Linked DNA regions of Homo sapiens. The protein of the gene in region 1 binds, or shares a complex with, the protein of each later gene. Each region holds a gene or a part of one and is shown in the gene's direction. Other genes may lie near its edges. The genes, in order: SMC5, NSMCE4A, EID3 and NSMCE2.

What was found.
Region 2: SMC5 (region 1) and NSMCE4A share a complex: the UniProt entries of both Homo sapiens proteins name them as parts of the SMC5-SMC6 complex.
Region 3: SMC5 (region 1) and EID3 share a complex: the UniProt entries of both Homo sapiens proteins name them as parts of the SMC5-SMC6 complex.
Region 4: SMC5 (region 1) and NSMCE2 share a complex: the UniProt entries of both Homo sapiens proteins name them as parts of the SMC5-SMC6 complex.

Annotation. Positions count from the first base shown.
Region 1 is NC_000009.12:70,261,944-70,268,981, forward strand, and holds part of SMC5 (structural maintenance of chromosomes protein 5), read left to right. Parts: intron 1-2,360; coding exon 2,361-2,502; intron 2,503-5,979; coding exon 5,980-6,032; intron 6,033-6,675; exon of another isoform or gene 6,676-7,038. UniProt on the Homo sapiens protein: Core component of the SMC5-SMC6 complex, a complex involved in repair of DNA double-strand breaks by homologous recombination.
Region 2 is NC_000010.11:121,972,210-121,979,708, reverse strand, and holds the start of NSMCE4A (non-structural maintenance of chromosomes element 4 homolog A), read left to right. Parts: upstream 1-4,491; 5' UTR 4,492-4,543; coding exon 4,544-4,835; exon of another isoform or gene 4,836-4,842; intron 4,843-4,903; exon of another isoform or gene 4,904-5,403; intron 5,404-5,627; coding exon 5,628-5,705; intron 5,706-5,879; exon of another isoform or gene 5,880-6,186; intron 6,187-7,499. UniProt on the Homo sapiens protein: Component of the SMC5-SMC6 complex, a complex involved in DNA double-strand breaks by homologous recombination. The complex may promote sister chromatid homologous recombination by recruiting the SMC1-SMC3 cohesin complex to double-strand breaks.
Region 3 is NC_000012.12:104,299,924-104,305,705, forward strand, and holds EID3 (EP300-interacting inhibitor of differentiation 3), read left to right. Parts: upstream 1-3,815; 5' UTR 3,816-4,011; coding exon 4,012-5,013; 3' UTR 5,014-5,282; downstream 5,283-5,782. UniProt on the Homo sapiens protein: Tissue-specific component of the SMC5-SMC6 complex, a complex involved in repair of DNA double-strand breaks by homologous recombination.
Region 4 is NC_000008.11:125,353,840-125,360,877, forward strand, and holds part of NSMCE2 (E3 SUMO-protein ligase NSE2), read left to right. Parts: intron 1-3,379; coding exon 3,380-3,480; intron 3,481-3,872; coding exon 3,873-3,979; intron 3,980-7,038. UniProt on the Homo sapiens protein: E3 SUMO-protein ligase component of the SMC5-SMC6 complex, a complex involved in DNA double-strand break repair by homologous recombination. Is not be required for the stability of the complex.

The DNA of each region.
Region 1 (7,038 bases):
CCTTTTAATGAAGCAGTGGAAGCAGAAAACTTTGCAGGCCGGATGCAAAGAGAAGAAAGAGAAGGTAGCTGGAAGTGCAGAGGTTGGTGAGATGCTGTTTATTTTAATGAGGGGATTTTGAGTTTTAGGCATGAGGTAGAGAAAGATGCGCTTAGAGAATTAGCAAGGAAATAAGATGGGTAGTTAGAGAATGTAAATGGCCTGGAAGAGAGTAGTGAGTGAACCAAGTCAAATGGAGTTGGGAGTGGAGGAAGACACTTGGAGGCTGAAGGAATAACATGTGCAAATACTTCAGAGCAATAAGGAATTATAGTCACAAAACTGAAAGAAGTACATTATAGGTAGAATTTAGAGGTCTAAGGAGAGAATAGGGAAAGGAGATAAAAAGTAGAAAAAGATGAAACTCGGCTGTGATGGGTTTTTCCTTAATTTTTCTTTTTTAACAAGTGACATCAGATTTACAATTCTACCAGCATCACTTGGTGATTGATTGGATGATGGAGTGGTGGTTTGGGTGGAGTCAAAAGAGATGAAAGAACCAAAGAGGATGCAAAACTAATGCCTAGGTTTCTGATTTGGTCAATGGCATGAATGATAATACCATTCACTAAGAGACCACAAGAGTGGTTTTGGATGGGAAAGATGGTGGATTTCGTTTTAAATGTGTTAAGTTTAAGATGACTGTTATGGGACATTCAAATAGCGTTATTGAGGTGACCATTGCATATAGAGGTCATCTGGACTGCTTTCAGCATGTAGATAGTATGCAAAGACTTGGAGAAAAAAAGGAATCATTGAGGCCATAGAGAATACATGAGATACCTCGTGAAGTATATGGAATGATAAGAGGGTGGGTCTTTACCAATAGCTCTTTCAGAGGGAGCTCAGAGGAAAGGAAACTCATGATAAGGGAATTCCCAATAAATACATCGTAGAATCAGAAGATTGATTTTAAACAGTGCAGACACTTGATCTGGGTAGCTAAAGGCAAGAAAAATCCCCCGCCTACCCCCGCCAAAAAAAAAAAAATTGCAGAGGCTTTGTTTTTGGCAACTGTCCCTATTTGTAATATCGATGCGTATTTTATAGGCCAGAAATTCTCATGCTTTTCCCTGTTCTGTTTTCTTAAATACCAGTTTCATCGTTTTAGTATAACATTTACACAGAGATTTCACAACAGGAAATCCAAGTGGGGCTTCATGTGTTGAGCGTAAGAAGTTCCATGTCAGGTAATTTCCTACATGTCTGAAGTTCCCAAACTAGTTTTATTGTAACCATAATAAAGGGCTCTTTTGAAACCCAGCTGCTAGCAGAACAAAACAGCTAAAAAGATAAAGTAGTAGATGCTGTGTAGAGGTGTGGGATTAGCAAACCTGCCAGAAAATACGTCTTTGCCACCTGTATTTTTATTACCACCCGACATTTCAAAATCATTAATTTCTTAAAATATTAATGTGTGTGCTTGGTTATTTATATACTTAGCAGATGAATAGCAGGCTAAGCATTTATTCATGAGGAATTAGTTGGCAGCTACCTGAGAGCTAACTGAAATGCTGTGGACAAAGGACACTTTATGGGTTCAAATTCAGAGTATTCAAAGGCGAGTTAAAAGAATGTCTGAGTCAGAGTTTGCTTCACATTTTGTCATAACTGTCCCTAGCAACTAATAAAGATTAGATGCTAACTATAATTAGAGTGCTAGTCAGCTTTCAACTTTTGTTTTGTAGGGCAGTGTCTCTCTATGATGCCTAGGCTGGCTTTGACCTCCTAGGCTCAAGTAGTACCCTGGCCTCAGGCTCCCTGGTAGCTGGGACTATAGGCACATACCATGGTGCCTGGCTTGGAAAATAATTTTTAAAAGTTAATAAAATGAAACCTTTGGGTTGAGATATATCTTCAGTTTTGTAATTAAAAATCTGCTTAGATTGTTTGAAATATTAAAATATGAATAACCATTAAGCATTATAATTTAAAAGAAATATGAATGTAAAATTCACAGATTCAAGGTAAGCCGTGGCGTCTCCTATAAAATTTGTTTTAAAGTTATTTTGTGTAGTATCTTTGATATAGTGTCCAGTGTTTTGTAATTATTAAAAAAGAACAAGGTATCAAACTTCACTTTCTTCAGCAGACTTTTGAAAAAAGTATATGAAATTATATTCTTTAGTTATGCATTACTGCCTTTTCATTTCTTCTATTGGTATTCTTTCTAAAGTTGTTTATTAAAAACCTATAAAAAAACATTAAATTTGTAAGGTTAGCTAGTTTTTAAAGGAATTTGAGGAAGCTCATAGATAATGTAAAGCAAGGAAAAGTGGTTTTGTATCTCTCCTTAATAATTTCATCTCTTTATAATTCAGAACATATGATATTTGTGAAGTATCTCCTGGACCCCACTTGAATATGATCGTTGGAGCCAATGGAACAGGGAAGTCGAGCATTGTGTGTGCCATTTGCCTTGGTTTAGCTGGAAAACCTGCTTTCATGGGACGAGCAGATAAGGTGAGTTAATATAATTACTTTTTAAGAAATTTCAAACCTATTAATTGCTTTTAGTAACATCAATTTCTACACCTCAGTTCCTTGGGTATAGCAAACTTAATAGTGCATGAATACAAGGAATAAATTTGGCAGGTAGAGAAGCTAGAAGGAGATTTTCATTTCTAGAAGTATTTTGGATCATAATACTAGAGGATTCTTCAAGTCTCTTACACCTAAAATGCTAGAAATAATGTAATATGTCTTTTTTTTTAAATGCATCACTTGGCTTGTGGAACAGTGAAGTAAACTTACAAAGGGCAGAAACAAAATCCAGTCATATGTTGCTTAATGATGGGAATATATTCTGAGAAAATGCATCATTAGACAATTTTGTCATTGTGTGAACATAATAGAGAATATTTACACCTAGATGGGTTAGCCTACTATCCACTTAGGCTATATGGTGTAGCCTATTGCTCCTAGACTACACTCCTGTAGAGCATGTTACTGTACTGAATACTGTGGACAATTGTAACACAATGGCCTACACTGTACTTATGTAAACATCTCTAAATATAGAAAAGGTACAGTAAAAATACAGTGTAAAAGATAAAAATGGTACACCTGCGTAGGGCACTTAACCATATTCATGAGAGTGGGGGGCGGAAAAATACTGCCCGAACAATCCAGAGGGAGTCTTGAGAAAGGAGGAGGAGGAGGAGATAAGAAACAGATACAAAAAATGAGATCATTAAAAATGACAAAATATTGGCTGGGTGCGGTAGCTCATGCCTGTAATCCCAGCACTTTGGGAGGCCATGATCAGGAGTTCCAGACCAGCCTGGTCAACATGGTGAAACCCCGTCTCTACTAAAACTGCAAAAATTAGCCAGGCATGGTGGCGGGTGCCTGTAATCCCAGCTACTAGGGAGGCTGAAGCAGGAGAATTGCTTGAATCCAGGAGGCGGAGGTTATAGTGAGCCAAGATCGCACCATTGCACTCCAGCCTGGGCAACAAGAGTGAGACTCTGTCTCAAGAAAAATAAATAAAATAAAAATCACAAAATAAGATGGTAGAAATATGTGCAGATATAATCACAATGATTATAAATGATCTAAACTCTAAACTCTCATTAAATTATAAAGTCTGTTAGAATGGAGAAATGAAACAATGTTTAGTTCTCTTTTGTTTTTAATAAGCATATCTAAAATAAAGTGCTACAGAAAAGTTGAGAGTGAAAGGATGAAAAAAAATACATGCCAGGCAAATATGCAAAAGAAAGTAGATGTAGCTGCATTAATACTAGGAAAAACAGACTTTAGAGCAAAAAGTATTTTATAGATAATAGTGGTCATTAAACACTGACGAAAGTTTTAATTCACTGGAAGATAATTCGATTCCCAACTCAAATTCACATTATAATCTAGCTCCAAAATATATAGGCAAAATCTGCAGAATGCTAACAAGCAGTTAACATATCCATAATCATACTGGGAGAGCTATCAATAATAGTAGACCAGTCAGATAAAAAAATTAGACTACAAAAGATTTGAACAATGAAGTTAAGCTTGAACTAATGGACATATTATAAAAAGTGCACTCAACAACTGGAGAGTATGCATTCTTTTCAAGCACAAGTTAACATTTCTAAAAGTTAATTGTATACTGAGTCATAAAGCAAGTATCAAAAAATTTCAAAAAATGGACACCACGTAGACCATATCCTATTTCTATTAAGATAGAAATAATAAAAAAAAAATTAAAAGTTAATGGATGGTTACAAAATGGAAGCAAATTCCCCTTAAGATTATAAATTATTTAAAATGTGTGTGTGTGTGTTTAGTGCTATATGGAAGACATTTATCAGGTAGAAGATACTTTTCTCTGTTAATAACTAGCCTTGTGACCTTGAGCAATTATCTGGACTTCAGTTTTTCTTCATTTCAAAGATGAGAGAGTTGGAACAGATAGCATCCAAGGACCAACTCAGATTTTTATGAATATTGATATATAGTTTTTTAATTGTCAGATCATTTAATCCCTATCTCTTTGTAATCGTCTGTTGGATTGTACTCCAGGGGCTGTACAGTAGGACTGAATTGGCTATAACAATTTTTACTAACTTTCTCATGTTGATTTTTGTCATGAAAACACATCTCATCCTTGAGTGATAGGATTTTTAAGGGAGGCTGTGGAGTGCAGTGTTTCCTAGATGACAGATTGCAGCCCTTTGGGTACACAGATGTATTTATGGGATGCCCAAGTTCTCAGCAAGAATATTTAATGTATTTTTGTTTAAATGCTAATATAAAAATTTAACAAAAACATACTCTACACCATCTGTATGGATACTTTATAATAAGAACTGCCTCCTGATTTTTGTTTCCTCCTCATTGGTACCAAGTCTTTTAATTCTTGCAAGCTAATGAGCAGATGTCATTCCTACATGGATGTCCTTGGTTTTCCTGTGAGGAAACAGAGAGGTTAAGTAACTGTCCAATGTTTAACAACTTGTATGTGGTGGAGTTGAGATTTGAACCTAGATAGTAGATGTTAAAACCTGTACTTTTAAGCATTAGGCTGTACTTGGTGGTTACAAGATAAGGCTTTTTTTTTTTTTTTTCTCCCATCTTTCTGGGACTCAGCTTTATTGTCTATAAAATGAATGTATACTTCAAGGTTGCTTATGAGTATTAAATGAGAAAAATACATGTTTAGTGCTTAGCACAACAGTATATAGTAAATGCTTGATAAATGTTAGCTGTTGTCATCACTGTCATTATCACTATTAAAAAGATTACTATTTGTGAGGTATATTTTCTACCTTTTTTAATATTTATCACTTATTTATAGCCTGATTTAAGATCCAGTCTGATTTTTTTAGGCTCAGACTTTGTTTTCGGACTTAGACTCATAAGCATATAGAAACTAGCACAGATATGTCTGCTTTATCATGTAAATTTCAATTATATTGCTCCTTTTAGAACGATGCTTGGTGGCAATTATATCATTAACAGGATAGGTAATATTAGCGTGGTTGTTAATATTTAACCTGCGCGACTGTAGGAAGTCTTCAATGGTAATAAGAAGCTTTGAGTGCTTAGTGGTTATACTATAGGACCTGTTTTCCCACAGGCATTTTCTCTTCTGTCTGGGTGTTTAATATAGTGGACAAGTACACAGGCTCTGGAGCCAAGATTTCCTGGGTTCAGATCGTTTTTCTGGCACTTACTGGCTTTGTCACGAGGTTGGTAAGAGGCTATGGAGTGCATAGGAGTTCGATAAATCTTACCTAATATTATTATTGTTGTTATTTGTGGGAGGGAACAATGGAGGAACCCAGATCTGGGAGAGATACCTTAGAAAGTGACAGGAGCGAACATACAAGTGGTACCTGAAAAAAATCTTGATTTGACAAATAATAATGACTGCTAAATCTCTGATTGTTAACCTGGGAATGTCACTACACAGCTCACTTTTTCTTTTTTATGTCTTAGGTTGGGTTTTTTGTGAAGAGAGGATGTTCTAGAGGCATGGTTGAAATTGAATTGTAAGTGTTAAAAGTGCTAAAACTCCTTTTTCCTATAAAATTCTTAGTTTATATTCATGTTTTCCTGATGATTAGAAAAGAGTATTAATATAGTATTATGGCATAAATATTGGAAATAATATTTAAAGAATACTTAATCCAGATAAGTAAGGGGTTTAAAAAATATATTTTAAAAACTTAAATTGTAGGCTAGCCATGGTGGCTCATGCCTGTAATCTGAGCACTTTGGGGAGGCCGAGGTGGGCAGATCACCTGAGATCAGGAGTTGGAGACCAGCCTGACCAACATGAGGAAGCCCCGTCTCTACTAAAAATAGAAAAATTATCCAGGCATGGTGGCACATGCCTGTAATCCCAGCTACTGGGGAGTCTGAGGCAGGAGAATTGCTGGAACCTGGGAGGCAAAGGTTGCAGTGAGCCGAGATGGCGCCACTGCACTCCAGCCTGGGAGACAGAGCTAGACTCTGCCCATGCCCCCTGCCCCCCCCAAAAAAAAAACTTGTGAGAATTTTATTTTAAAAAATTATCAAGGAAATGATAAGTTTATAGCAGGTAATGAAATAGAACTATACTACTATTAAGTAGTCATGATGAAGTTGCAATATTTTTCACAAATTTAAAGTATCTGGGTTTTTTTTTTTTTGCTGATCTTGAAAGTAATACTTGCTTGTCTTTAAAAAACGCAAACAATGTAGAAGTGTATAATGTTGAAAATAAAAGCCTTCTTGCCATCATTCCTAATTCTATAAATAACTACTGCTAATAGTTTGATGAATCTCATGTATGACAAGGACTTGGTACTTCTGTCACCATTTTTTATTTTCTCCCTTATGACACCAATAATTCATCATAGTATTCTTTTCCCTTGAGCTTGGATATTCTCAATTGGCCATTCTTGGCAGCTATTTTTGATAGACTAGAGTTGATGTTTATGATGAAACCAGTTGACCATCCTTGGTATATATAATTTTAATCCTTTACACATAAATATGCACATTATTTAGGTG
Region 2 (7,499 bases), on another chromosome or scaffold:
CAAAGGCAAGTACCTGAATTATCTGTGTGCCCTGCTGTGCTTTGTAGGGTGTCTAGCCTATGAGTACACCTCAAATATTTTTATTTATTTATTTATTTAGAGATGGAGTCTCACTCTGTCACCAGGCTGGAGTGCAGTGGTGCACCATCTTGGCTCACTGCAACCTCCGCCTCCCCGGTTCAAGCAATTCTCCTGCCTCAGCCTCCTGAGTAGCTGAGACTACAGGCGCACGTCACCATGCCCAGCTAATTTTTTGTATTTTTAGTAGAGATGGGGTTTCACCATGTTGGCCAGGATGGTCTCGATCTCTTGACCTCATGATCCACCCTCCTCGGCCTCCCAAAGTGCTGGGATTACAGGCATGAGTCACCGCGCCCGGCCCTCCCTCAAATACTTTTGAATTGAATGAGTTATTTCAGGGTTTTTTTGTTGTTGTTGTCATTGTTTGTTTTTTGAGATGGAGTTTTGCTCCTGTCACCCAGGCTGGAGTGCAGTGGCATGATCTCGGCTCACTGCAAACTTCGCCTCCCAGGTTCAAGTGATTCTCCTGCCTTAGCCTCCTGAGTAGCTGGGATTACAGGCGCCCACCACCACGCCTGGCTAATTTTTCGTATTTTTAGTACAGACGGGGGTTTCATCATGTTGGCCAGGCTGGTCTTGAACTCCTGACCTTGGGTGATCCACCCACCTTGGCCTCCCACAGTGCAGGGATTACAGGCGTGAGCCACTGCACCTGGCCTATTTCAGGTATTTTTGTGTGGAGCTTGGAATGAACTTTTGAGAGGTGACAGCGTGCTGGCAGCCCTCGCTCGCTCTTGGCACCTCCTCGGCCTCAGCGCCCACTCTGGCCGGCTTAAGGAGCCCTTCAGCCCGCCGCTGCGCTGTGGGAGCCACTTCCTGGGACCGAGGCCAGAGCCGGCTCTCTCAGCCTGCGGGGAGGTGTGGAGGGAGAGGCACGGGGGGAACCGGGGCTGCACGCTGTGCTTGCGGGCCAGCTAGAGTTCCCTGTGGGCGTGGGCTTGGCAGGCCCGCACTCGGGAGTGGCCGGCTGCCCTGGGCAGTGAGGGGCTTAGCACCTGGGCCCGCAGCTGTGGTGGGTTCGCGGGGTCCCCCAACAGTGCCAGCCCACCAGCGCTGTGCTCCATTTCTCGGCGGGCCTTAGCTGCCTCCCCGCAGGGCAGGACTCAGGACCTGCAACCCGCCATGCCTGAGCCTCCCCCTGCCACCGTGGGCTCCAGCGTGGCCCGAGCCTCCCCGATGAGCGCCGCCCCCTGCTCCAGGGTGCCCGATCCCATCAACTGCCCAAAGGCTGAGAAGTGGGGTGCAGGGCGAGGGACTGGCAGGCAGCTCCACCAGCCACCCTGGTGCGGGATCCACTGGGTGAAGCCAGCTGGGCTCCTGAGTCTAGCGGGGACTTGGAGAACCTTTATGTCTAGCTAAGAGATTGTGAATACACCAATCAGCACTCTGTATCTAGCTCAAGCTTTGTAAATGCACCAATCAGCACTCTGTGTCTAGCTCAAGGTTTGTAAATGCACCAATCTGCGCTCTGTGTCTAGCTGATTTGGTGGGGACTTGGCGAACGTTTATGTCTAGCTAAGGGATTGTAAATACACCAATCGGCACTCTGTATCTAGCTCAAGGTTTGTAAATGCACCAATCAGCACTCTGTGTCTAGCTCAGGGTTTGTAAATACACCAATCAGCACTCTGTATCTAGCTAATCTAGTGGACAGGTGGAGAACTTTTGTGTCTAGCTCAGGGATTGTAAACGCACCAATCAGCACCCTGTCAAAATGGACCAATCAGCTCTCTGTAAAACAGACCCATCGGCTCTCTGTAAAATTGACCAATCAGCAGGATGTGGGTGGGGCCAGATAAGAGAATAAAAGCAGGCTGCCCTAGCCAGTAGTAGTAACCCACTCAGCTCACTTTGCACACTGTGGAAGCTTTATTTTTTCGCTCTTTGCAATAAATCTTGCTGCTGTTCACGCTTTGGGTCTGCACTGCTTTTATGAGTTGTAACACTCACTGTGAAGGTCTGCAGCTTCATTTCTGAGGCCAGCAATACCACAAACCCACCGGGAGGAACGAACAACTCCAGACACGCCGCATTAAGAGCTGTAACACTCACCGTGAAGGTCTGCAGCTTCACTCCTGAGCGAGTGAGACCACGAACCCACCAGAAAGAAGAAACTGCGAACACATCTGAACATCATAAGGAAAAAACTCCGGACACATCACCTTTAAGAACTGTAACACTCACTGCGAGGGTCCGCGGCTTCATTCCTGAAGTCAGTGAGACCAAGAACCCACCAATTCTGGACACACTTTCACCTGGAAGAACGCTAAGTATTCCATTACAGAACACTGAGCTACAAGCAACAACTATGAAACAATGACCTGGTTTAAACCATGATTTATGGCTTACTTTACAGGGAGTCTGGAGGCATGTGGTTGATTCAGCAATTCAGCCATGTCCATCTTTGCTCTCCAGTGTCTCCAGCACTCTAGTCTTTCCTCATGCTTGTCACCTCGTGAGTACCAGATGCTGCCAATATGGCAGGCTCCACATTTTTTCTTTCAGACGTTGTTTCATTCTTGTCACCCAGGCTGGAGTGCAATGGCGCGATCTCTGCTCACTGCAACCTCCACCTCCCAGCTTCAAGCAGTTCTCTTGCCTCAGCCTCCCGATTAGCTGGGATTACAGACACGCACCATTATGCCCGCTAATTGGCAGGTTCCCCATTTCTTATGCCAGCCATCTCAAAGGGGGTAGGGGGTCAAGGGTTTTCTTTTCAGGAAGGTTTGTATTCCATCCAGTTGGGAAACCCTTTCACATCTCACGGACCCAGGTTGCATCACATGACCCTTGACCAGTCACTGGGGAAGGGGAATGACATTACCGTGACCTGGTTAGAGTGATCACGTTTCATCTAAGGAAGTAGGCACACACGTCCCCTTCAGGAAATACAGATAAGCAGGGATGGGTGAGGTAGTAGCTGTTGGACAGCAATGAACAGTGCCTAACTTAAGTTTAGTAGACATGATGCACAAAATGGAATATTTGTAGGTTGTGTAATAACCCAACTTATAATATTGGTCTTTTGAGAAAATGTGTTCTTAGCACCAAAGACAACTTTTGGGAAACAATACTCGAATACAATCCAAAATGCACGGAGTGAAATTCATACATTTATCTTTCAAAGTATACTTAACATAATTCCATCTTTCTTGGGCCCTTCAGGAGGTATTCTTAGAATCTTCTAGTTTGAGAATCAGAATCAGGCTGTGCCTGGTGGCCCATGCTTGTAATCCCAGTACTTAGGGAGGCCGAGGTGGGCGGATCACTTGAGGTCAGGAGATGGGGTTGCAGTGAGCCAAGATAGTGCCACTGTACTCCAGCCTCGGCAGAGCAAGGTCTTAAAAAAAAAAAAAAAATCAAATGTGAACATAGACTGTCATTAAAATCAACCCAACAATCCCATAGACTGTTTACTATTTTTTTAATAAACTTAGAAATTATCATTTCTAGTCTTAAGGTTGAAACTTACCTTTGTTTTATCTGAGTTCCTTCCTCAGGAAAGGACCTCCAGAGCCTCTCAAAAAGTATCAAAAAACTGAAACTCGCCATATCACCGCATTCCAGACAATGAGATGCCAAGCCCCTCATGCATCCCCATAGCTTCCTTCCCCCTCCCGAGTTCCTCTTTTCCCATACATTGTTACATTGCTTCCCTGCAACTGTATAAACCCTTAATTTTAGTTGGTCAGGGCAATGGATTTGAGACTGAGCTTCCAACTCCCTGAGTGCAGCACCCTACTAAAGCCTTCTTCCTTGGTAATAATGGTTTTCTCAGTGATTTCTGTGAGGGGGCAGCGGGTCCTAGAACAAAACCCTGGTGCTCTGGTGACATTCTGTTGTAGATATTTAGAAGGATGTTTACCTGTTAATTTGTTCTGCTATCCTCACAAAAAATGGTATTGCCAGCTGCACATAAATATTTGATTCATCCACCCACCCCTGTTCCCCACCCCCCCGACCCCAGCCATGATGGCACAGGGAAACTGAGGTCGCAGGTGAGCAGCAGACCGCGTCTGGACTCCACATCCCGCGCTCATCCTGCTCCACAGCAGGAAGCTCGTTCAACACACATGGACTGCGTGCCCATGTGGGTGCCAGGCTGCGGCTGTGTCCTGGGCAGGCAAAGGGACCTAGGGAAGATGCAGGTCCAGGAGGGTGGGAAAGTAGGGGCAGAAAACCAAGATTCTCACAGCCCTGCAGTGTGGAGTAAGAGCTCATTACACCTCTTGTCAAGGGAACAAAGGATCCCCGCCAGGCCCCTCTTGTGCACCCAGCGGTCCCCCCAGGCGCCTTGGAGACCCGGCCGGGCCCGTCGCCGGCCTCCAGCCACAGGCGTCGCTGTGCGCTCGCGCGGGCCCGGGAGCCGCGTTCCGCCGGGAGCAGGCGCTGGCGCAGAGCAGGGGTTTCAGTTTCTGGCGCGAACTTCCGCCGTTCCGAAGTTGCACGGTGAATTGGCGCTATGTCTGGGGACAGCAGCGGCCGCGGGCCAGAGGGCCGGGGCCGGGGCCGCGACCCGCATCGGGATCGCACCCGCTCCCGCTCCCGCTCGCGGTCCCCTTTGTCGCCCAGGTCCCGCCGCGGCTCTGCGCGGGAGCGCAGAGAGGCCCCAGAGCGCCCGAGCCTGGAGGACACAGAGCCGTCGGATTCCGGGGACGAGATGATGGACCCGGCCAGCTTGGAGGCGGAGGCCGACCAAGGCCTGTGCCGCCAGATCCGCCATCAGTACCGGGCGCTCATCAACTCCGTCCAACGTAAGGCGGCGCCTCCGGGCGGCGCGGGCCCGGACGGGCCGCTGTCCCCGCCCTGCGCCGGGCGCGGGGGGAGGGCACCGGAGGCAGGTGCCGGGCGGAGGCCCGGCGCGGCGTTAGTAGAGACGCGCCGGGTGCCAGCCCCTCGCCGCACCTTAAATTGTTGACAAAGTGCTCCCACTTTGTGGCTGGAGCCGTACGACCTTGGCGCGGGTCCCCGAGTGGCGGGCTGGAAAAGCTGGAGGCCAGAGCCGTTCGCGGACTCGCCCGAGCCCAGCCAGCCAGTGGGGAGAGGCAGGACGCGGACTCCGCGTGCTTTGATTGCGCCCGGCAGTCCTCGGCGTGGGCTCCCGGCCTCGCAGCGGCAGCTGCAGCTGCAGCGGCACGCGAGAGCTGTCAAATGCACGTTCTCGGACCCCACCCGGACCCGCGGAATTCGAATCTCTGGGTGGGTCCGCGCAACTGTGGAGTGGCCCTCCAGGTGATGGTGTGTATTGCTTGCAAAGTTTGAGAACCACTCAGTTATGGAGCACTCAGAGGCTGCAGCCGGAGTCCAGCCCTTTGGGTTAAGGTTAGAGGGAGCTAGGGTTTCCTTTTAAAATTCATGCTGCATAAAGGGTAGGGTGGCCTTTCTCCTTTTCCGGGTCATTTTGGTTAAAAAGATAAAGATGTTCGAAGTAATTACTCAGAGCGCAGGGGCCGGGGCTTGGCTTTACTGTTGCAGGTGATAACCTTGTCAACTGCTTATTAGTGAATGCTGAACAAATTTCCCAAAGTTTGTATTTTTAAAAATAGAAAACCGTGAGGACATACTGAATGCCGGTGACAAATTAACAGAGGTCCTTGAAGAGGCTAACACTCTGTTTAATGAAGGTAATTTGTTATTTTATATGTTATTTCGTGTTTTATGATACTTTTAATTAGTGTTACATAAGCGCCAAATTATTGACATAAAACAATTCCCACATTTGTAATAGTGCTTTCCCAGTTCGGGAACCGTTTCATTATAGCAATAATGCCATTTTTATTATGCACTTACCATATAATAAGGGCTTTACATGAAAATTTGGGGGTAGGTTCCGCAGTCTGTGTTAAGCCCCCAGTTGATTCTGTTGCCTCTTCAAGTTTGAGAACGTTACATGTGTTATCTTGTTTCTTTTTCTTGTGTTTACTGCCGTATCCCTAGTATACATTGGTTGAGTGGATGAATTACAGAACTGAGCTAGCCTCTGAAATCCTGTTTCTTTTCCTGTCCCATTCTGTTTTGCCTTCCTCAGCTCCCTGCTATTGGTCCACGTGTAACACAATGGAGGTGGCAAAGCCTGCAAGTGTACCTGCTGGTCTCCAGTCTGGGGTGTGTTGTGTGTGAGTGAGTGAGTGAGAGAGATCCCAGAGCACTGAACTCTAGGCCATGGGTGCTTTAAAAAATAACCTTAGTTTGAATTGAAAGCAGAGGCAGTGGTATTGGTAGCAGCTGTCTGTCTGCTTGGTGACAGAGGGGTACTCCCTGATGTGGGTACTTGGTCATAGAGCCACAGGACTACTACCCAGACCACTGTCCCCTCCAGCCCTCTCTGACGGGTCTGTGGGAACATAGGGGAGAATGCAGCCAAATATATCCTTTTTTTTTTTTTTTTTGAGGTTTGAGATGGAGTCTCTGTTGCCCAGGCTGGAGTGCAGTAGCACAATCTCGGCTCACTGCAACCTCCACCTCCCAGGTTCAAGCAATTCTCCTACCTCAGCGTCCCGAGTAGCTGGGATTACAGGTGTGCTCCATCACACCCAGCTAATTTTTGTATTTTTAGTAGAGACGGGTTTCGCCATGTTGGCCAGGCTGGTCTCGAACTCCTGACCTCAGGTAATCCACCTGCCTCCGCCTCCCACAGTGCTGGGATTACAGGCATGAGCCACCGCCCCCGGCTGGTTCCTCATATTCTTAAAGGACTAGAACGTATATTTTTAGTCATTGCTGAGGATGACTAGTTCTTTAAATGTCTCCTTTTATCACTTTATATATGCTCTCCAATTTCTTTGACCACAGCCTCCTTACCATTCCCCATCTTAGTCTACCGCATTTGCTAACTCTCATCAAAACCTTCAGGAACCGGGTGTTTCTCCTTCACCTGGTTAAATCCCTCTACTACCCTCTTAAGTTTTGTCTTCCCTTCGCAGCCTGGACTCCCAGTCTCCTTACTGTTAGTCTTGCTTGACTTGACTCAATTACTCCCTTGATATTTACTGTGCATCTAGTCAGTTCTTTATCCCCACATCATTCCCCCCTCAGCTATTTCCAGTATTTAAAGCAATATTTTAGAGCAAAATTATTCACTCATTGGAGCCCTAGGAGTTGCTCAGCAAACAACAGATGCTGGCATTCATGGATTTGATGGTCTCAGTTTGTAAAATAAATAAATAAATGAAAGGGGAAGGGAGTGGGGCAGGCAGGCACAGGATACTCATGGGAGATAAAGAAGGGATCAACAAAAGGAAACAGCGGGGCTGAGGGGGTTGCTTAATCAGACCCTGCAGGCAACAGAGAGTATGAAAAATAGTCTGGGAACACCTACACCTGTCGCCCAGGCTGGAGTGCAGTGGCATGATCTTGGCTCACTGCAACCTCTGCCCCCCCCAGGTTAAAGCTATTCTCCAGCTTCAGCCACCCGAGTA
Region 3 (5,782 bases), on another chromosome or scaffold:
AGGAACAGAAAAGTTTAGGGAGGTAGCTATTAGGATAAGTGTATATGTTAGAGTGTGGGACTCAAACCTGACTGATTCCTGGCTTTGGCTCCAAAAAGTCTCTTAAAAATCCATTTGTTATAGGTAAGTGTTAACAGCAAAACCTCACTGGAGAAAAATAGTGGACTCGTGACTTCTTCCTTTATTTGGTTACAGGGAGACATGTGACCTTTGTCATCCACCCTATCACGTTTGTGTTGAGCAGTATGGGTTGTGGGAAAGAGCTCAAGAATGCTTGGAATTAACCTAAACTCCTAGAAAAGGAACTGAAAATATAGGAGAAAAGGGTGAAGAAAAGAGGAAAGGAAATGGAGGTCTGTATTGAACCCTGGGTAGCAACTCTTGAGCGAAGAAAGAGGAAAAAGGGGAAAGAGGGGAGCTAAATTATCTCTGAGGCAACTCAGTCTCATGGTTGCCTGAACTAGTCTATACTGCGGGAATAAGGTAGACGCCACTGGTTTCTTTGAAGTACCAGTGCGCTTCTTGCTTTCTATTCCTGGTCACAGACAAATTTATCAGTAGTGCAGTTTCTTCTTTTTAAGCTTCATTTAAATAATTATTAGTAGCACTTGGACCTTAGGTTAGGAAATCACTGTTTAATGACTTAAAGATTAACCGGCATGGAAATCCCATTCTTTATATGATTGGGGAGAGTTATTGAACTTGAGATTGTTTTACTTTGTAGCAATGTCTAAAGGCAGATTTGTTTTGTTTTGTTTTGTTTTTGAGGCGGGGTTTCGCTCTTGTTGCCCAGGCTGGAGTGCAATGGTGCAATCTTGTCTCACCCGCAACCTCTGCCTCCCAGGTTGAAGTAGCAGGGATTACAGGCATGTGCCACCACGCCCAGCTAATTTTCTATTTTTAGTAGAGACGTGGTTTCTCCATATTGATCAGGCTGGTCTCAAACTCCTGACCTCAGGTGAGCCACCCACCTCGGCCTCCCAAAGTGCTGGGATTACAGGTGTCAGCCACCGCACCTGGCCTAAAGGCAGATTTTTAAAGGTGGAACATAATGCAAGTCTGCCTTTCTTAGGATGATCTAAGTTACATGTTAATAAAGTTCTTGGAGATCTAGCATAGAATGCATTCAGCACTGTAAATCACAACTTAATGTTTGCCTCGATATGCTCTGTTGCTCTGAGCAAGTTGTGTGGGCTGTTATCTCCTGAGAAATCCCTGTAAATGGTATTAGTAATACTTTATAAGCAGGTTGGGAGAATATAGTTTTCTAAGGCATTTTGAAATTCTTAGATGAAAGGGTCTTTATGTAGCAAATTGGTGTCAGCCTATTTTCCTTCCTCTGAGCCAGAAGAAAATAGGCACCATAGGGTGGGAAGGGTTGGCTTATCTGTTAGAGTTCTTTTGTAAGTAGCTTTTGTTGAATTTTTTTTTTGAGATGGAGTCTCGCTCTGTCGCCCAGGCTGGAGTGCAGTGGCGCGATCTTGGCTCACTGCAAGCTCCGTCTCCTGGGTTCAGGCTAGTCTCCTGCCTCAGCCTCCAGAGTAGCTGGGACTACAGGCGCCTGCAACCACGCCCGGCTAATTTTTTGTATTTTTAGTAGAGACGGGGTTTCACCGTGTTAGCCAGGACGGTCTTGATCTCCTGACCTCGTGATCCGCCCGCCTCAGCCTCCCAAAGTGCTGGGATTACAGGCGTGAGCCACCGTGCCCGGCTGCTTTTGTTGAATTTAAAGTGGATGTGAGAAGCTCCTAAGAATATCGTTCACTGTAAAAGCAGACTTTTTTGGATTTGGGTCTTGGAATTCTTAACTGTATTTTCACCTAAGATTTAAAACAAGTTCAAATACTAGTTTGTAATTGGCCAGACTAGGGACAGATACGATCCTTGAATGATCCTGGGTCTCAACTTACCTTTCTTTCATTTTTCCTTTATTTTAGAAGAGGGATAAGAACTTTTTCTGAAGAGCAGTCAACTTTTCCTTTCAGTGTGTAGGATTAATTCCACGAATCTGTGAACTTAAATCTTTGCTGCCAAATAACTTGCAGTAGATGCTGGGATAGTTTTAAATCTATTTTAAGTTATACATTCAGTACATAAGTGCATCTCCGTGTAAAAACAGCTATGTTTGGAAGATCTAAAACGCAGCTTTTGTTTTTGAGAAGCCAACAATCTAATAGGGTAGGATCATATATATGTACAACTAACCGTAATGCATGGTGTTTTGAAAAATGCACGTATCTCCCTGAATTACCCCTAGTTAATAAAATAATTGGGAGCAAATGGTAATATAAGGATTTTGGAGTAACTTAATACTACTAGATTTTGCTGTTTATACATTTACAAAAAACTTTCTGCTAATGCTAAAGAAATAGAACAAGTCTATATGCATAAAGGAAGGTAGGGCTAATTTACTTCCTGGTGCTATGAAACTGGCAATTGGACAGGTGCAATTGTGGGTGTCTTTTTTTTTTTAAGGTGTACCTGTTGCAGGTTTGAAAAGCTGTTGATGCTCATGGGTTGTTTGTGTGCATGTTCTCTTTAAAAACCAGATGTATTCATTCCCTTTTTTTTTTTTTTTTTTTTTGAGACGGAGTCTCGCTCTATAGCCCAGGCTGGAGTGCAGTGGCCCGATCTCGGCTCACTGCAAACTCCGCCTCCTGGGTTCACGCCATTCTTCTGCCTCAGCCTACCGAGTAGCTGGGACTATAGGCGCCTGCCACCGCGCCCGGCTAATTTTTTGTAGTTTTAGTAGAGACGGGGTTTCACCGGGTTAGCCAAGATGGTCTCGATCTCCTGACCTCGTGATCCGCCCGCCTCGGCCTCCCAAAGTGCTGGGATTGCAGGCGTGAGCCACCGCGCCCGGCCATTCCCATTGTTATGTATACTTTGCTATTTGCTGCTGGTGAGACAGATAAGGAGTCACGTCTTTAACTGCACTTGAGTTTCCAGTGACCCCATTAAATCCAATGGGTAAATTTTCCCACGCAGATTACTCACCCAGTTTACAGATTAAGCTTTCATATCCTTAGACTGTATCTGAAATTTTCATAGCTTTGCCCACCTTTTAGGGTTCAGAGTTACTACCCATTCAGTGTCGGTGGCCTTTAGCTGTTGGCAAGCTTCCAAGTAAATAGCTCTTTTGCAGAGATCTCTACCCATTCTATTCTTCCACTCCTGGGTAGTGGAGAACCAAAGTTCACCTGAGTAATGCCCGTGCCCAGCACCCAGTTTCCTGCAGGGGTTAGCACGGATATTGGAGGCTCCCCCGATCCCACAGATACTCAGGATGGGTATTGGAGGGGGCTTGGTTTTTAAGAGGACATGTGAAAGTAATTAACCCGATTTACATTTGTATAATGAGTCCAAACACCACCTTGCAAAAGAACTGAGAGTTTAGCCTGCTTAATGGAGTTTCTGCTTTTCACGGTCCTTGGCCTTACCGACGGTTTACAGTCCAGCCAGATTTAGTTCACAAAAAACCAAAACCAGGTCGACCTCACTGCAGTATATGATGGCAGCGAGCGTTTTAAAGCGCAGGACCTTTAGTCTCCTCAATAGTTTTGTGTAAAGTTGTCCAAAAGTGTTTTTTTTTAAAGTGAGGTGATCCAGTCGGTAAACGCTTTGAAAAAGAATAGCTGTCCCCTGAGCGGGCATTAGTCGCGTGTGAGGTCAGGGCCCATCATTGCGCGTGTTGGGAGCGCCGCGCTGGTCTATGAGCGAGCGCCTCGGCTTGTGGCTGGGCCGGGCCGGGGCGGGGCTGTCTTCCCGCGGAGCGTGCTGGGGGCGGGTCGCGCCGGGCCGGGCCGCTAGTGCGCATGGGCGGGCGTCCTCGGCTCTAACTGCCGCCACTTTCCACACGCTGGGAGGGCCGTTACCTCAGAGATACCCGTGGCCGGCATGTTGGTTGAAAAAGCTTCCCGGAAGGGAGACGAAGAGAAAGGAGAGGAGCAGCTCGTGATCATCCCCGGTAGCGAGTACGCGGCGAAGTAGGCGGCGGCGGAGGGAGCGCTGATGAAGATGGATGTGTCAGTGAGGGCCGCGGGCTGCTCCGACGACCTCAGCTCTGGGGAGGCCGACGTAGACCCAAAGCTCCTGGAGCTCACCGCTGACGAGGAGAAGTGCCGCAGCATCCGCAGGCAGTACCGGCAGCTCATGTACTGCGTGCGGCAGAACCGGGAGGACATCGTGAGCTCGGCGAACAACTCCTTAACCGAGGCTCTGGAGGAAGCCAACGTCCTCTTTGATGGCGTGAGCCGAACCAGAGAAGCAGCCCTCGACGCCCGGTTTCTTGTTATGGCTTCTGATTTGGGTAAAGAAAAGGCAAAGCAGTTAAACTCAGATATGAACTTCTTTAATCAGTTAGCATTTTGTGACTTTCTGTTTCTGTTCGTGGGTCTGAATTGGATGGAAGGCGATCCTGACAAGTTGAGTGATTGTGATGATAGCATAGCTCTTTCCTTCTGGAAGGCAATAGAAAAGGAAGCAACATCCTGGATGGTAAAAGCTGAGACATTCCATTTTGTTTTTGGTTCATTCAAGCTAGAACGTTCTGCACCAAAGCCCCGACTTGAACACCAGAAAAAAGTTCGCAAGATGGAAGAAAATGGCAACATGCCTACAAAGTTGCAGAAGTTGGACCTGAGTAGTTATCCAGAAGCGACAGAAAAAAACGTAGAAAGGATTTTGGGATTGTTGCAAACCTACTTTCGAAAGTATCCTGATACTCCTGTGTCCTATTTTGAGTTTGTGATTGATCCAAACTCTTTTTCTCGTACTGTGGAGAATATATTTTATGTTTCTTTTATTGTAAGAGATGGTTTTGCAAGAATAAGGCTTGATGAAGACAGGCTGCCAATATTAGAGCCGATGAATGTTAACCAAATGGGTGAGGGAAATGATTCCAGTTGCCATGGCAGGAAACAGGGAGTTATATCTTTGACTTTACAGGAGTGGAAAAACATTGTGGCAGCTTTTGAAATTTCTGAGGCTATGATTACATACTCCTCATACTAAAGATTTCTTAGTATAGCATCCTTTTTGTGTTTTTTTTCTGAAGTTAGATGGAGAGTAAAATGTAAACTGAAGCACATATTGTATCTCTTGTAAAGTGAAAAAGTATTTTCAAGAACATCAGACATTGTTTTACTGTGCAGCATATTTTTCTTAGTAATTTATAAGGTCATGATCTTCTGTTATTAAAACAAATTCACTGGCATATTTATGGGAACGTTTTATTGAATGCCCTTTAAGACTATTAATAAAAACAAGTTTTGGATACCAAATTAAGGGATATTTGATAATTTGCAAAACATAATAATTTACGAAAATCAGTGATGATGCTCTGTGATGCGTTGCTTTCTCTGTCATAGGGAACCAAGAGAATCCCAGAAAGGGTTCCTAACCAGGTTGGGCAAAGAGTGGGTAAAAAACAAAAGTTAAAAAAAAAAACCTGTCTGTAAGGCAGTGAATATGCAACATTAAGACTAAAAAAGTCATTGCAAGGAAGACTTAGGATTTATGAGTGAGTATCCATATTCTAAACAATTTCTGTTATTGTACTCAGCAAAAGTAGTGTCTCTGCTGTAGTAGTTGAGGTATCAGCTAAGGGTGAAAGGTGAGTAGAAACACGAAGAAGGAAAAGGCATTCTAGGCAAGAGAATAGCAAGGTCAAATGCATGGAATTGTTAGAAGTTAGGCACGAGAGGACCATTAGATTTATGGAAAAACTATTATATTTGATAAGCTGGGCAACAATTGAATAACTTCATCTATTAATATCCTG
Region 4 (7,038 bases), on another chromosome or scaffold:
GCCATTGCACTCCAGCCTGGGCGACAAGGGCAAGACTCCGTCTCAAAAACTAAAAAATAAAAAATATATATATATATAATTTTATTGCTGTCAATTTGTTGTTTTTTTTTGAGACGGAGTCTTGCTCTGTCACTCAGGCTGGAGTGCAATGGCATGATCTCTGCTCACTGCAATCTCCACCTCCCAGGTTCAAGCAATTCTCCTGCCTCAGCTTCCTGAGTAGCTCAGGTTATAGGCGCCCACCACCACGCCCAGCTAATTTTTGTATTTTTAGTAGAGAAGGGGTTTCACCATGTTGGTTAGGCTGGTCTCGAACTCCTGACCTCAGGTGATCTGCCCACCTCAGCCTCCCAAAGTGCTGGGATTACAGGCGTGAGCCACCGCACCCAACCTTGCTGTCAAAATTTTGAAAAAATATTTGTATAATTTTGCTTTGGAAATAGGTTGGCTACCAGTAACTGATTTAATTTGTAATTGACTATTAGTTTCAGCAATTATCTTACCATACTGGGAAATTTTTATGAAGTTTATGAAGAAATAAATCCAGCCCTACATATTACTTCCAAATTATGTATTTTCGATTACCGGATCAACAATTAATGAAGTTAACTTCACATTTGCATAGACCTTTAACATTTAGTAATTTCAGTACTATTGTTATTCTGTTTTGAAGCCAACCAATGGTTTTTAAGGTCTCAGACGTTTGTTTAGCTCTCTGAAAAGCTGGAAGCCCCGAGGCACTGCACCTTAATGCCCAGTGGTTAAAAATGCTCTGACTGGTTATTCCCAAGCCCTGAGATCTTCACTGCCTTCTTCAAAGAATAAAAGCTGGTTTAGGGGACAGCAAGCTGGCATACAAATATACCAGTCTACTCCAAGAAGGTGACTCTCTAAGAAAAACAAAGTAATTGGAGGCAGAATCCCTGTGTTGCAATTAATTCACCAGGTTACCTTGAACAAGAGCTCTGCAGCCCTTTCCCTGCCCCTCAGTACAGCTTGAGCATCCCTAATCCCAAAATCCAAAACCCACAATGCTCCAAAATCCAAAACTTTTTGAGCACCTACATGACGCCACAAGCAGAAAATTCCACATCTGGCCTCATGCAACAAGTACACATGAGTGTTAAAAATGCTGCATAAAATTAGCTTCAGGCTATGTGTGTAAGCTTTATATGAAACATAAATGAAATTCATGTTTAGTCTTGGGTCCCATCCCCCAAGATATTTCATCATGCTTATGCAAATATTTCAAAGTCCGAAATCCGAAACACTTCTGGTCCCAAGCATTTCGGATAAGGGATACTCAACCTGTAGTGCCTTTGCAAACAAACACCTCATCTGGCCTAGGTGATGGCCCACAGTCATCAGTTCTATGGAACCGAAAGGTATGCCACACCATCTGAACCAGAAACAAGGGCTTCCTCTCACACATTGAGGAAAGCCATTTTTATGTCTGTATTATTTTGCCAAAATTAAAGAAGGAAGGGAAGGGAGAAAAGAGTAGAGAAGGGAAAGGGAAAGGAGAAGGAAGGAGAAAGGACTACACCATCAACATGTTTAGAAAGCTACTGATCTTTTGGCTGGGCCCCGTGGCTCATGCCTGTAATCCCAGCACTCTGGGAGGCCAAGGCGGGCAGATCACCTGAGGTCAGGAGTTCAAGACCAGCCTGGCCAATATGGTGAAACCCCATCTCTACTAAAAATACAAAAATTAGCCAGGCATGGTGTCGTGCACCTATACTCCCAGCTACTCAGGAGGCTGAGGCAGGAGAATCACTTGAACCTGGGAGGCGGAGGTTGCAGTGAGCCAAGATCGCGCCATTGCACTCCAGCCTGGGTGACAGAGCGAGACTCCATCTCAAAAAAAAAAAAAAAAAAAAAAAGCTATTGATCTTTAACTTCTGTGCAAAATTACAAGTATCTTTTCTTCAGAGAGAATGGCTTTCATGTGAGATACTCCCATCATCCCATTCAAATGTTGTCTATCATCTGTTTTTGGTTTGGTTTGGTTTTTCAGTTGGGGGCCAATGGGATGTAACTCAAAGAACATCAGTTTCAGAAGCAGCTCATGCTCTGTTCAAAGCCAGTCCTGTCACTATCACTCAGCAGTTCTCAAAGTGCAGGCCAGGGATCTCTAGGGTGCTCCAAGGGTCTTTCAGAGTGTCCATAAGGTCAAAACTGTCTTTATAATAATAGTATGATCTCATCTGCCTGTTTCACTCTCATTCTTTTCATGAGTGAATTTTCCCAGAGACTACAGGATATGTGATATTGTGACAGATTGAATGCATACGCAGATATCCAAATCCAACTGGCTGCTATGAAGCCAGACATTCAAGATATTTATAAAAATGGAAAACAATGCCATTCTTCTCATTATGTATGTCTGTGTGTATGGGGGGGGGTGTTCTGGAAATATAATTTTAACTTTTAAAATGTTTATGGTAACACGTAGTGGGATTATTACTGTTACTTTTAATTTTTTGGTTTTTTTTTTTTTTTTTTTTTGAGACAGAGTCTCGCTCTGTCACCAGACTGGAGTGAAATGGCAGGATCTTGGCCCACTGCAACCTCCAACTTCTGGGTTCAAGCGATTCTCCTGCCCTAGCCTCCCAAATAGCTGGGACTACAGGCACATGCCACCATGCCCAGCTAATTTTTGTAGTTTTGGTAGAGATGGGGTTTCACCATGTTGGCCAGGATGGTCTCGATCTCTTGACCTCGTGATCCGCCCACCTCAGCCTCCCAAAGTGCTGGGATTAAAGGCGTGAGCCACCGCAACCGGCCTTATTGTTATTTTTTAATGAATTTTAAATTCCTTAATCTTAATGTCTAATATGTTAAATATTGATAAATATAACCCACATAGAAAAAGCTTAAAAGAGTTCATACCTATAACTAAAAAGTTTGAGAAGCCCTGCACTACCTAATTGTAATGACTGTTTATTGATTATTGCTTTGTACCATGAGCTGTGCAAAGCATACCACATTCTTCATCTCTTTTAATCTTTGCCACAAGGCTGTAAAGCAGAGGCTTTAAAAAAGGGCACCTTGCTAGCCCAGCGTCTCACCACTGGACAAGAAAGAGATCACCAGGTCGGTTCTCTGACTCTGAAGCCACACCCTTGGTCACTTTCTCTATAACTTTAAAAAAGATTCTTTTTAACTGCTCTGAGCCTCAGTTTCCTTATCAAAAATAGTCAGAATGAGGTACCCCGTAGTGTTCTCTGAAAAGCAGAAGAGTTTCTATGCATCCAGTCCTTACATGGGGGCCAACAGCAAATGCTCCCCCAGAAACTCTTCACCTCCCTTCCTTCCATTCCTTCCTTTTCTTTGACGTTAGACCAGAGAGGCTTATCAACTCTCCATTTTCCTCTAGGTGGTCTTCAAGCTGACAGAGAAGCTGACGGAACAGAAGGAGTGGATGAAGATATAATTGTGACCCAAAGTCAGACCAACTTCACCTGCCCCATTACAAAGGTACCGCTTCCTCCTACTTCCCCTGAAAGAAACACGATTCACTTCACAGAGGCAGAAAGGTTCCTGTTTGCTTTCTGGTTTGATTTCACTTAGGGAGTTAAGGAGGGAGTAAAGAAAAGTGCTGGGGGTTGAAGAGTATCCACGGGAGGTTCTTGGGCTGGAGAGAGCTGTCAGTCAATCATGCCCTGAAGGATCCGGGACTAAAGTCATGGCCTACAGGCCAAGTGACAGTACTGCCACTGGATTCCCTGCATTTCCTTATCTAAAGCCTAGTAATTATGTAAAGCCATGAGAATGGGAAGTTAAACATAGAAAGCTCAGGACTAGGACGAAACAGCTACTGGAAGTTGATCATTATCATTCCTGAAAGCCCAACATCTCCTTGATTACAGGAGGAAATGAAGAAGCCAGTGAAAAATAAAGTGTGTGGCCACACCTATGAAGAGGACGCCATTGTTCGCATGATTGAGTCCAGGCAAAAGCGGAAGAAAAAGGCCTAGTGAGTGGACGCAGGGAAGGAAGTGGAGCCTTCCCTAGTGGTAGTTACTCAGAGGTGGCGTGTTCACGCTAGAGGAAGAGGCACTTCAATGTCTCTTCTAAATTCCGTTCACCTCCCGAATACTGTAAACATGGAAGTGGGCTTTCTGGAAAAACAATACATGAGGGAAAAATTAGTAATCTGTTCAGGAAGAAGCTGAGGGAACTTCAACCACACCTTCAAAACAGAATAAGGCCAGGCAGGGTGGCTCATGCCTGTAATCCTAGCACTTTGGGAAGCCGAGGTGGGCAGATCACCTGAGGTCAGGAGTTCAAGACCAGCCTGGCCAACATGGTGAAACCCCATCTCTACTAAAAATACAAAAATTAGCCAGGCTTGGTGGCAGGTGCCTGTAATCCCAGCTACTCGGGAGGCTGAGGCAGGATAATCTCTTGAACCCAGGAGGCAGAGGTTGCAGTGAGCCGAGATTGTGCCACTGCATTCCAACCTGGGCAACAGAGCTAGACTCTGTCTCAAAAAAAAAAAAAGGTTTAGGTAAATTCATGGCTAACTCATGAATGATAAATTATTTTTTTAATTGGAAGTTTTGCAGAATCTTTATAAATAGACATAATATATATTATATGTTATATATTGTTTTATATGTATATCATATATTATTTATCTTTAAATATATATAATATACACACACACACATATATATATCTCACCTTCCTTCCCCTTCTTCCATGACCACGGAGGACCATGCTCTGTTCCTGTAATAACATAGAATCCTGAGTTAGCCAGACTGACTGGCATTGACTTCGTTTGGCATTTCTTGTGCTCTTATCATGGATTTGTTGCAGGAATGGAATTGCAGGTGTGACTAGTTCTCAATTGACTTCTGATAACAGTCCCTTTGATGTGTGGCTTGCTTCTCCATTGCCCAGAAATTTGCTGGTCCAGACCTAGAATTGGAATTCCCCAGCACTCCTCATCTGGGTGTGGACTTAGAGATAATATATTGGAGACTAAAGATATCTTGATGGTCATTCAGGCAAATAACTTATCCTATGTATTCTAGAAGAATAGTGGCTTTGCTGCCTAATGGTTGCAAAATGTAGACATTCTTAGTACATTTTGATCTGTTTTGAGTTTTTGAGTTAACAGTTGAAATGTCAGATTTCGGCCAGGCGCGGTGGCTCACACCTGTAATTCCAGCACTTTGGGAGGCCGAGGCGGGTGGATCACGAGGTCAGGAGATAGAGACCATCCTGGCTAACACGGTGAAACCCCGACTCTACTAAAAATAAAAAAAAATTAGCCGGGCGTGGTGGCAGGCGCCTACAGTCCCAGCTACTGGGGTGGCTGAGGCAGGAGAATGGCATGAACCCGGGAGGCGGAGCTTGCAGTGAGCCGAGATCATGCCACTGCACCCAGCCTGGGTCACAGAGTGATACTCTGTCTCCAAAAAAAAAAAAAAAAGAGGGAGGATTCTGGGTTGTTAAATGGCATGCTTTCTTGCTCTTTCTCTTTTTTTTTTTTTTTTTTTTGAGACTGAGTTTCCCTCTTTTTGCCCAGGCTGGAGTGCAATGGCGTGATCTCAGCTTACCACAACCTCCGTCTCCCAGGTTCAAGTGATTCTCCTGCCTCAGCCTCCTGAATAGCTGGTATTACAGGCATGCACCACCACGCCCAGCTAATTTTGTATTTTTAGTAGAGATGGGGTTTCTCCATGTTGGCCAGGCTGGTCTCAAACTCCCGAGCTCAGGTGATCTGCCCGCTTCGGCCTCCCAAAGTGTTGGGATTACAGGCATGAGCCATCGCGCCCAGCCATGGCATGCTTTCATTAGTTTCCTTATCCATAAATGAATGACAATCGTTGTAATCACCTCATTGGCATATTTGAAATTTAAATAAGATACATGCAAAGTACTTAAAGTAGCTGGTACACAGTAGGGCTCAGTAAAATTATCCCATCATCATCTTCAAACTTGAGCCACTATCAACATCCTCTTCGTTTTTTTCCACCATTGCTCTATAGGCATGGGAGACGAGGACAGTTTTAAAGGAGTAAGATGAGCCAACCTGGAGTTTAGGAAGTTACTCCAATAGCAATGCAGAGATGGATTAAGGAGGCATGAGGCAAAAAAAAGTCAGTTAGGATGCTTTTACAGTGGTTTAAGTTATAGAAAATTAGAGTATAGAGATACAAGAGTGATTGTGGAGGTACAGTTAACGACATTTGACGACTGACTGAATGTAAGAGAAAGGAAGAAGCAGCGAGGGGTGGCTGACATTTCTCATCTGGGTGTCTAATACTGTCATTTGCTCATTAGCCTCCAGAGAAGGCATGAGAGAGGAACACTCTTATTGGAGGATTGTGATAGACTCAGCTCAGGTCATCCTAAATGCAAGGTCCCAGCAATACAGCCCCGTGGAAGTGTCCAGGAAGTGCAGCAAGTGTGAGTTTTGCAGTCAGGGGAGGACTCAGAACTATCGATGTGGATTGGGAGGTTATCAGTATAGACGAGTCAACCCGCTCAACTACCGTCACAGATGCAGCTCTGGAACAAATGCATTCACCAGCAGAGAGCCAGCAAGGCAGGACCCGCACCTCGCCTGTGATCTCCACAAGGCCAGAGCCCGACTTCGTTCTGCTCACTGTGATGCCTTAGCACCCTGGTGCCAACCCTCAAAAAACACTTTGTTGACCAATGAGAGGATCAATCAGCGGAAGAAGACCCCTAAAAAAGCAGTCTAAAATATAGCCAGGAGCCAGGAAGAGTGATAAGGAGTGGAGGCTCATGGGAACTTGTGGGCGGGGTGGGCAGGGTTCTGAAGGCCAGGTGCATTTGGGCAGCAGTAGATTAGAACTCAGGGCCTTCTTGAAACCAACTCCAGAAGTTTCTGATGAAGCATGAAGTCGTATCATTTCCCATGATGCACATTAGAGTGATGAGTATTTCTGGGTTCGCTTTGTTTAGAAATGTCCATGACACATTGTCTCATTTCTTCCTCCTAGATTGTTCTAGTTATGTTTGTTTTTTTAGACTGGAGTTCCAGGTCCATTGTGTTCT